3 separate regions of the Homo sapiens genome follow, and all the other regions are linked to region 1. Evidence: fine-mapped expression QTL. A gene starts in region 1. Each other region holds a variant in brackets. All regions are shown on one strand. Distances are from middle to middle. Region 1 holds the start of KLF12 (KLF transcription factor 12). Region 2 overlaps KLF12 (KLF transcription factor 12). Region 3 has its middle 31 kb from the start of LINC00402.

Evidence for each region. PIP is the estimated chance that this variant, and not a neighbour inherited with it, causes the effect. A credible set is the group of variants that fine-mapping cannot tell apart.
Region 2: its variant is the best candidate, but not a certain one, in a credible set for the expression of KLF12 in atrial appendage (GTEx, PIP 0.69).
Region 3: its variant is the best candidate, but not a certain one, in a credible set for the expression of KLF12 in fibroblasts (GTEx, PIP 0.65).

Annotation. Positions count from the first base shown.
Region 1 is chr13:74,132,861-74,135,360 of GRCh38, reverse strand. KLF12 (KLF transcription factor 12) reads left to right here and starts at 957. Exons shown (of 8, transcript NM_001400136.1): 1 at 957-1,389. RefSeq lists a silencer at 1-1,210 and enhancers at 2,220-2,269, 2,300-2,479.
Region 2 is chr13:73,933,734-73,936,523 of GRCh38, reverse strand. All of the region lies in intron 3 of KLF12 (KLF transcription factor 12), which reads left to right. Among named protein-coding and RNA genes, the nearest start is that of KLF12, 200 kb to the left of the region's middle. The variant C/T (reference allele first, on the strand shown) is at 1,315.
Region 3 is chr13:74,199,022-74,201,870 of GRCh38, reverse strand. It overlaps a transcript of KLF12 not described here. Among named protein-coding and RNA genes, the nearest start is that of LINC00402, 31 kb to the left of the region's middle. The variant TG/G (reference allele first, on the strand shown) is at 1,681.

The sequences.
Region 1 (2,500 bases):
GCGTGGGGCAGTGGAGCTGGACTCCCTTCCCCGCCGCCCCCGGGCCCCGCGGGGGTCTGCAGATCCCGCTTCCTCTGCCCCAGTCCTCCAAGTTTGCGTGCTTTCCCACAGAACTGGCGCAGGCAGGGGCCCCTTCGCTGGGGTGGCGAGGCCAGGCGCGCATCTCCGCCTCGCCCCCATTCATCCCGCCAAGGTGAAGCGCAGGGAAAAGGGGCGCCCCCGCTTCGCCCGCAACGTGCGTCGCTCCGGAACCCAAACAATGACTCCCCTGCCTGCCGCGCCCGGCCCTCCGCCCGCCCCACCGGCGCGCGGGGGGCACCGCCCGCGGGGCTGCCCCTGCCTGACCCCATTGTTGCCCGGCGCGGGCGATGCCCGGCGCCCAGGGGCGGTCCCCGCGAGCTGCCCCACAGTCCCGGCCGGCTCCGCCCACACCTTTCCAAGTTCGCTGGCGGGCGAGCCGCGGGGACGACCCGGGCGACAGCCCCCTCCCTCCACTGCGCGCCCCCACCCGGGCGGGTGCGGCGAGGGGTGGGGGCCCAAGCGGGCTGCACGCTTTTTGGGTCCCCGAATTCTCCTAAGCCTGTCTGGCGCGCTCTGACACAAAAGAGGAGACTTTCTCGCGGCTCGGCGCGAGTCCTTGCCCAGCGAGTTGCTCTCCAGGGGTCCCTCCCGCCGCAAGCCCCCGCGGGCCCCCTCGGCCGACGACTCCCCGAGCTCCCAGGGCCATGTGTGGGTTATTTGGGGTGCCGCAGCAAAGTGGTGCAGGTGAAAGGGAAGCGCTGCCGAGGCCCGGGGCCGGAGGGCGGGGGCAGGGGTGGGGCGGGGTGGGGCGGGGTGGAGGCGCCGCGGACCCAGCCCGGCGGTCCGGGCGGGGAGGCGAGGGCCGGGCAGTGGGTGTTGCCTTCTACCTCTGCGAGCGGGGAGGGGTTAGTTTCCCACAGGGGATTTCAACCATCACACTCAGAGCCCGCCTCCTAATCCTCGGGCGGAGCGGCTCGGGGGCCCCATTTTATGGCAATAAAGCGACTTAGCGCCTGCTGAGCGAGCCCCTCCCCGCCGCCGCCCCCGCCCTCGGCCCCACCCCGGGGCTCGCCGGCAGCGGCGGGGCTTTGTTTCTGGGGAGGAGGACCCGGAGCTCTTTTGTTTGGGGGTTTCTTGTTTTCGGCCCCCCCCCTCACAGCACCCCACCCCACCCCACCCCAAGCGCCTCTCCGGTTTCCTGAGCTGCGGGCTGCGAGGGAGGAGAAGCGGCGTCCTGCAACCCCCTCGGCTGGGCCCCGGGGTAATTCGATGCGGGCCTGGCGAGGCTCCCCACACTAGACCGGGGCTCGCAACTCGGCAGCCTCCACCCACCGGCCCACCCTACATTTAGCGCATCATGTGATCCGGGTAAGTCATTTGCAAGTACAACAGTTCCCCGGGTTGCCCCCCATTCATTTCCTGAGAACTGCAGAGAGCCGCTGAGAGGCTCTGCGTGTGCGTGTGCGCGGGTGACGCCGTGTGTGTGCGAGTGTGTGTGTGTGTGTGCGCGCGCGCGTGTGAGAGAGAGAAAGGGAGAGAGAGAGGGGGACTCTGTGTGAGGGAAAGAAAACAATTTCTCCTGCTCTGCAGCTTCTGTTCAGGTCTGTGCCGATTCCGTTTCTTATCAAAATAAACAACCCCCTCCTCTTTTTTTTTTTTTTTTGCCATCCCAAATCAGACCGTATTCTCTTAACGTGTTTTATTTTCCTTCTGTCATCTGCTCAAGTTAAATCATTTTGGTTGGTCTGTGTTCTTAAAGGGGGAAAGTGCTGGGAAGCGGGAGGGGGCCGGGGAAGGGCGATGCTGTTGCAAAGCAAGTAGCGTCGGTCGGATTCGTGGAGAAGAAAGAAGGAGGTTTCTTCCCCACCTCCCCTAATTTTTTTTTTCCAGAAGAAGTTATCAAGTAACGTGAATTAAGCAAGTGTTTTTCTACCCCTAGTGGAATTGTTGGTTGCAGTGTTTGCCTGACAGTTGCCAAGGATGTGAAATAAAACCCCAGGGCTGAACTTGGGGGGGAGGGGGGGCTCGTGGAAGTAGTTGGCCCCCCGGCCTCGAGCGGGGTGGATGAATAGCTCCGCACCGGGACCGTGTGGGCTGTGTGTGCGCGCTGGAGAGAGTGGAGGGGAAGGGGTTAAGGCGGAGATGACACTGCTGGCATGAATAGTGCTCCTGGTGCTACATTCATTATTGTCTCTGGTCGTAATGATGTGTAACTGTCACTTGCTACAGTGCCTGGTCCATGCAAGTAGCCAGGGGCTGGCCGGTGGCTGTTATTTTCAATTACGGGGGACCTGGCCGGAGTTGACAAGGGGCAACTTTGTACGTCCACCCGGGCCGGGAACCCGCAGAGCCGGCCTGGGAGCCACTTCTTGCCTCAGAAGCTCACTCTGAGGGTTCAGACTTGACCTCCGCGACATTAGTTGGTGTTCACGTTAGATGCTCCCCTACGGGGAGAATCAGTCCTGCTTTTGTTGGGTAG
Region 2 (2,790 bases), 200 kb after region 1:
AGGGTTTGGTGAGTACTTATCTTCCTGTGTATTGGAGGAAGGCAAGGAAAGGTCGGCCATACAGCAGTAGGTTGAACAATTCTTGGAGCTCACATAAAGCTGACAGAAATCAGGGTGGAGAGACCTCTTCATATGTGAGGCATTGGGAAGAGGGCTTGGAAGGGTCACAGCTTAGTGGCCCTGAGTCCTGGAATAGACTGCTCTGGACCTACCCTGACAAGCCTTAGAAACAAGCATTGAAAGGACCGAACTGATCTGCAAGTCACTCAGCTGTATACCAGAACAAAAATGCACTCCAAAGAATACACGATCTAGTGCTGAATGATGTAAAAATCACAATGTCTGGCATCCGATCAAAATTACCAGATGTACAAAGAAGCAGGAAAATAGAACTTATAACCAAGTTTTAAAAATGAATCAATAGAAACACATCCAGAAATGACAAATAATTGGCAAAGATCTTAAAACATCTATTTTGTATCTTATATGCTCACAAATGTGAAGGAAAACATGAAAATGATGAGAAGAGAAATGGAAGGTACAAAAAGATAAAAAATTAAACAGATGAAACATACACCATGTATGTCTGTTTTTGCATTGCTGTAAAGAAATACCTGAGGCCAAGTGCTCACGCCTGTGATCCCAAGGGAGGTGGATCACTTGAGCGCAGGAGTTCAAGACTAACCTGGACAATGTGGTGAAACCCCATTTCTACAAAAAATACAAAAATTAGCCAGGCATGGTGACACATGCCTGTAGTCCCAGCTACTCCGGAGGTTGAGATGGGAGGATTGCTTGAGCTCGGGAGGTGGAGGTTGCAGTAAGCCAAGATCCCATCACTGCACGCCAGCCTGAGCAACACGAGACTCTGTCTCAAAAATAAATAAATAAATAAATCATGGCAGAAAGCAAAGTGGGAGCTCGTGCATCATGTGGTGAGAGGGAGCTGGTGCCAGGATAACAACTTGTGAACTCAGAGTGAGAACGCATTCATTACCATGAAGACAACACCAAGCCATTAATGAGGGATCCGCCCCCATGACCCAAACACCTCTCCCTAGGCCCACCTCTAACATTGGAGGTCGCATTTCAACATGAGATTTGAAGGGGAAAAAAACTTCCAAACCATATCATACTGTATTTAAAATTTTAAAAATACAGTGGATGACATTAATAGATACTGCAGAAGAAAAGATCAATGTCTGAATACGTAGCAATAAAAACTATCCAAAGTAGGCCGGGCACGATGGCTCATGCCTGTAATCCCAGCACTTTGGGAGGCCGAGGTATGTGGGTCACTTGAGGTCAGGAGTT[C/T]GAGACCAGCTTGGCCAACATGGCAAAACCCTGTCTCTACTAAAAAATAAAAAAATACAAAAATTAGCCAGGCGTTGTGGCTCATGCCTATAATCCCAGCTACTCAAGAGGCTGAGGCAGGAGACTCACTTGAGCCCGGGAGGTGGAGGGTGCAATAAGTTGAGATCGTGCCACTGCTCTACAGTCTGGATGACAAAGCAAGACTGCATCTGTCTCAAAATAAATAAATAAATAAATAAATAAATAAATAAATAAATAATAAAAACCTATCCAAAATAAAGCACAAAGCACAGAGAGAAAAGAAATAGAGGCTTAAGATAAAAACAGAGCTTCAGTAAGCAGCTGTGGAACAATAGCAAGTTGCTTATCATACCTACAATTGGACTTTCAAGAAGAGGGAGATCAGAAAAAAATATTTGAAGAAAAAAAGCTGAACATTTTTCAGATGGGATGGAAACTATAAACTCACAAATCCCAGGAAGTTTAATGAGCCCCAAGCAGAATAAATGGCACTAAAACACAGAATAATCAAATTGCTAGAAACAAGTAATAAAGGACATAGTCTTAAAAGCAGCCAGGGGGCAAAAAATACACCTTACACATGAAGGAAGATAAATCAGTCTTCTTATCTGAAATCAGTCAGGAAAGAAGAAAGAAATTGCAGGCAGAAAGAAACGGATACTAGGTAGGAATTTAGATTTATACAGGAAATGAGTAATGGTAAACATATGGGTCAATATAAAAGAATTTAAAAATCTTTTTAAAAGACAGTTGACTGCTGAAAGCAAATATAACAATGCATGGTGGAGTTCGTGACATATTGAATGAAAATGAGTAGTAACGACAGCACAGGACAGGGTTATGGAAGGAAGTATAGGTAGAGTTCTCCCACCACTTGTGAAGTGGTATGGTATTATTTGAAGGTAGGTCAGTAAGTCGTAAGTGATAACTTGTGATAAAGCCTTATGTTGTAAATTCTAGAGCAGCCACCCACACAAAACAACCAGATACAGTTGTCAGGACCAATAGTGGAGATGAACCAGAAACACTGCAAAAAAAAACCCCTCAATTTATCTAAAAGAAGAAAAGTCAAAAGGAACAGAGTACAGATAGCAAGATGGTACATTCTAGAGTAATCAAAGGATAGAATCTAGAGTAGTCAAAATCTTCGACAGTAGAATGAAGTTGCCAGGTGTTGGGGGAGAGGGAAATAGGGAGTTGTCCTGTGAGTATAGAGTTTCAGTTTTGTAAGATGAAAAAAGCTCTAGACATCTGTTATACAGCGTTGTGAATATAGTTAACACTACTGAGTTGTACACTTAAAAATGGTTAAGAGGGTAAATTTTATGTTATATGTTCTTTACCACAATTAAGAATTTAAAAAAAAACATTTTTTGAACCAGAGGGCTTAGGATTTATAACTGTATAGGAGAGCAAATATGGATTACTAAACTGGCTAAGGGGAGACTTGAGCAG
Region 3 (2,849 bases), 66 kb before region 1:
CACTTAAAATCAGATCCAAAACTAATAGTTCCCACTGCTGAATTGCAATGTCAAGCTGAATTGTCTGACTTGCCAGGTTTCTATGGTTAAAATTAATGCCCTGCTTGGCAAAGACTGTCAAACTAGCAATTGGAACCATCTGAGAGGAGCCAGAGAAGCCTGGATTTCCCAACTCCTGGGTCCCTCTGAATTACATCTCTGCATTTATCTGTTCCCGCCAAGAGTAGAATGAGAGGCAGGTTCATCATGAGGATTCAAAAGTAACTTTAGATCCAGTGATATTCAAAATCAGAGTATGGGGAAAGAAGGATTATATCAAAAAGAACTTATAGGAGGTGTCTCAGGAGTCCTGGGGAAGAGCTTATTGGGAATAAGTAGACATGAATTTTACATTTGCTTAACCAAGGAGAACAAAACATAATTTGAAAAGATCTAGCCAAACTTATTCTAAGATCAGGATGAGAAAGGAAGGGAAAGAAGGGGAAGAAAAGGAAAAGGATTTTACCTACGTAGGCACATTCTGAGCTTTACGGTACCTTACATTACAACAAGAGGATGTGACCAATACAGACTGGTGTTGTAGACATCATTCTATGCTGCCAAAGGTTTAGACTGGACATGGCCAATGTGGAAAAAAAGATTTACAAATGATGCAGAAGATAGAAATGTTAGAACATACATCTCTCCTTGTATCCTACTCAACTCTTCTAATAGGCTCTCTATTTGATCTGGGACACACACATTTCTTTTAATGTTTAAAAATAATTTAATAAGAGAAGGCATTTTGAGAACGAAAACTGCATCTTTGATTAGGATGTGCAGATAGTGAAAAGAATCAGATATTAAAAAACAAAAAGATTATGCAAGTATACCTTCATTTAATAAAATAGTAGCACCCAAATGAGTGTGACATTTCTAGTGCCATAGAATAAAACCTAAAATCATCTGTGTGTTGGGCTCCAGAACCAAAAGGGAACCAAATTAATAGACATTCCCATAAAGTTCATCTTGGTAAGGACAATACTAATACGCCAAATACCTTATAGGGTTTGCAATTAAAAAACTGAGAGAAAGGGCCATTCGCTCAGTTTTTTAGTTTTTCCGGAGCAGAGGTGTATAACCACAGAGAGAAGCAGAAACTCTCTATGACATTGAATTCATGTGGCAGACCTGAGATTAACCAGTCCTGATGATCTCTATGTCCAGTTTGCACGTGAAGAGATCCCCTTTTTCTCAGAAAGATCTGAGTGAGTCTGACTTGGGCAATCGGAAGATCTTGACTATCATCTCTCACCAGGGCTTTTGCAAGCTGGTTTTACATTCTTCAATCTTCAGTCTTTTCCCTCCACTCTACCGGCTATCTAATTCCTAGAACAAAATTTCCAAGACGAAATCCAGGCAGATGATTCCATCTTTAAACCCTTCCATGACACATAATATGATCCTGCAGACTTTTTCTGTTCCTTTGCTTAACACACTCATGCTTCATGCTCCAATCACAGAAACATCAAGTTCCCCCAGCCGGTCAGTTCTACTGCCAATAAACATATAGCTTTTTCTCTCCTCATTGCTTCCATCCTCTGGTATGCCTGAATCTACCATCCACCCTTGGTGAACTCTGAATTATGCAGGACTCAGGCTAAAAGAATCCAATTAGGCCTTCTCAGGAAACCCCCCCCC[TG/G]AGCAAGCTTAGAAAAGGTTAGCCATGTCCCCACATCCATTCCTCTCTAGCTCCCTTCTCTGCCATTATGCAAATGATCACAGCTTGGTCTCTCAGTTTACCCTTGTGTTTCTCCCACTGCCGTGTGATCTCCTTGAGTGGGAAGAATGCTCTTTAAATTTAAAAATCAACTTTAATTATCTTTAAGGCCTCAGCACCCAGAAGTTAAGTAGGATGCTATAAGTGTTTACTGAAAAAAAATGACTAGTGATCATTACTTACTAGATGTCATCAACAGTCACAGGTAATACCTGAGAGAGGGCTTGGGATTGCTAAGATGAAGTCTCTGTGTAGAGTTCAGGGACAGATCACCACGACCTGTTGTATCCCATTTTTTTGGGAAGCCCAGCAAATCTAAAAGTGAATAAATTTCAAATCCTCTCTCCTAAGGCCCATTCCCATGACTTGGAGAACTTTCTATCTGATCATGTATTCAGGACGTTATTGACAATCAACATGGCTATGACTCTTACACAATTCTTTTGTTTCACTTAAAATATTGGGCAATAAAGTTGTGATTCTGCCATCCTGCAAGTAGAGAGAGCCTCTACAGGTCCTGTACATCCTAACTCTGTTTGTGTGCCAATATTTGAGATGTAATATTCTTGTGAGTTCCTCCTAATATTTCAGCAAGCCTTTATTAATAGTGCACTACATGCCAGGCATGGTTTTTATTGTCACCACTTATTGAGTGTACAGCAGGGCTAATAATTCATGCACTACCAGTCAGGTTTAAAAAAATGTAATTTCTTTATTTCCTACATTTTATCTAATTTCGCTCTCAAGCTACCACACTTCTGGGTAATGAGAACAATGTGACTGTTGAATTGAAGTATATCATTTCTTTGGGGCAGTCACTTTGAAGTAAATCGTTAGTCCTTTCACTCTTCTCCACCTGCATTCCCAAGATGGTTTCGGATATGTCAGGAATTTTCAAGACCATGGAGTTTTTGGGTTAGAAGGCATCTCAGGGCTATGCCCAGGGATTTCAGGAATGAATGACCTTTCGATCCGCACTGACTTCTGCAGGAATATCCTAACTGCCAGTCTCTGGCTGTCCTGTGAGAATGAAGTCTGGGTCTAGTGGACTCATGGGCTGTTCTCATGCTGGTTCCATCCCACCTCGGCT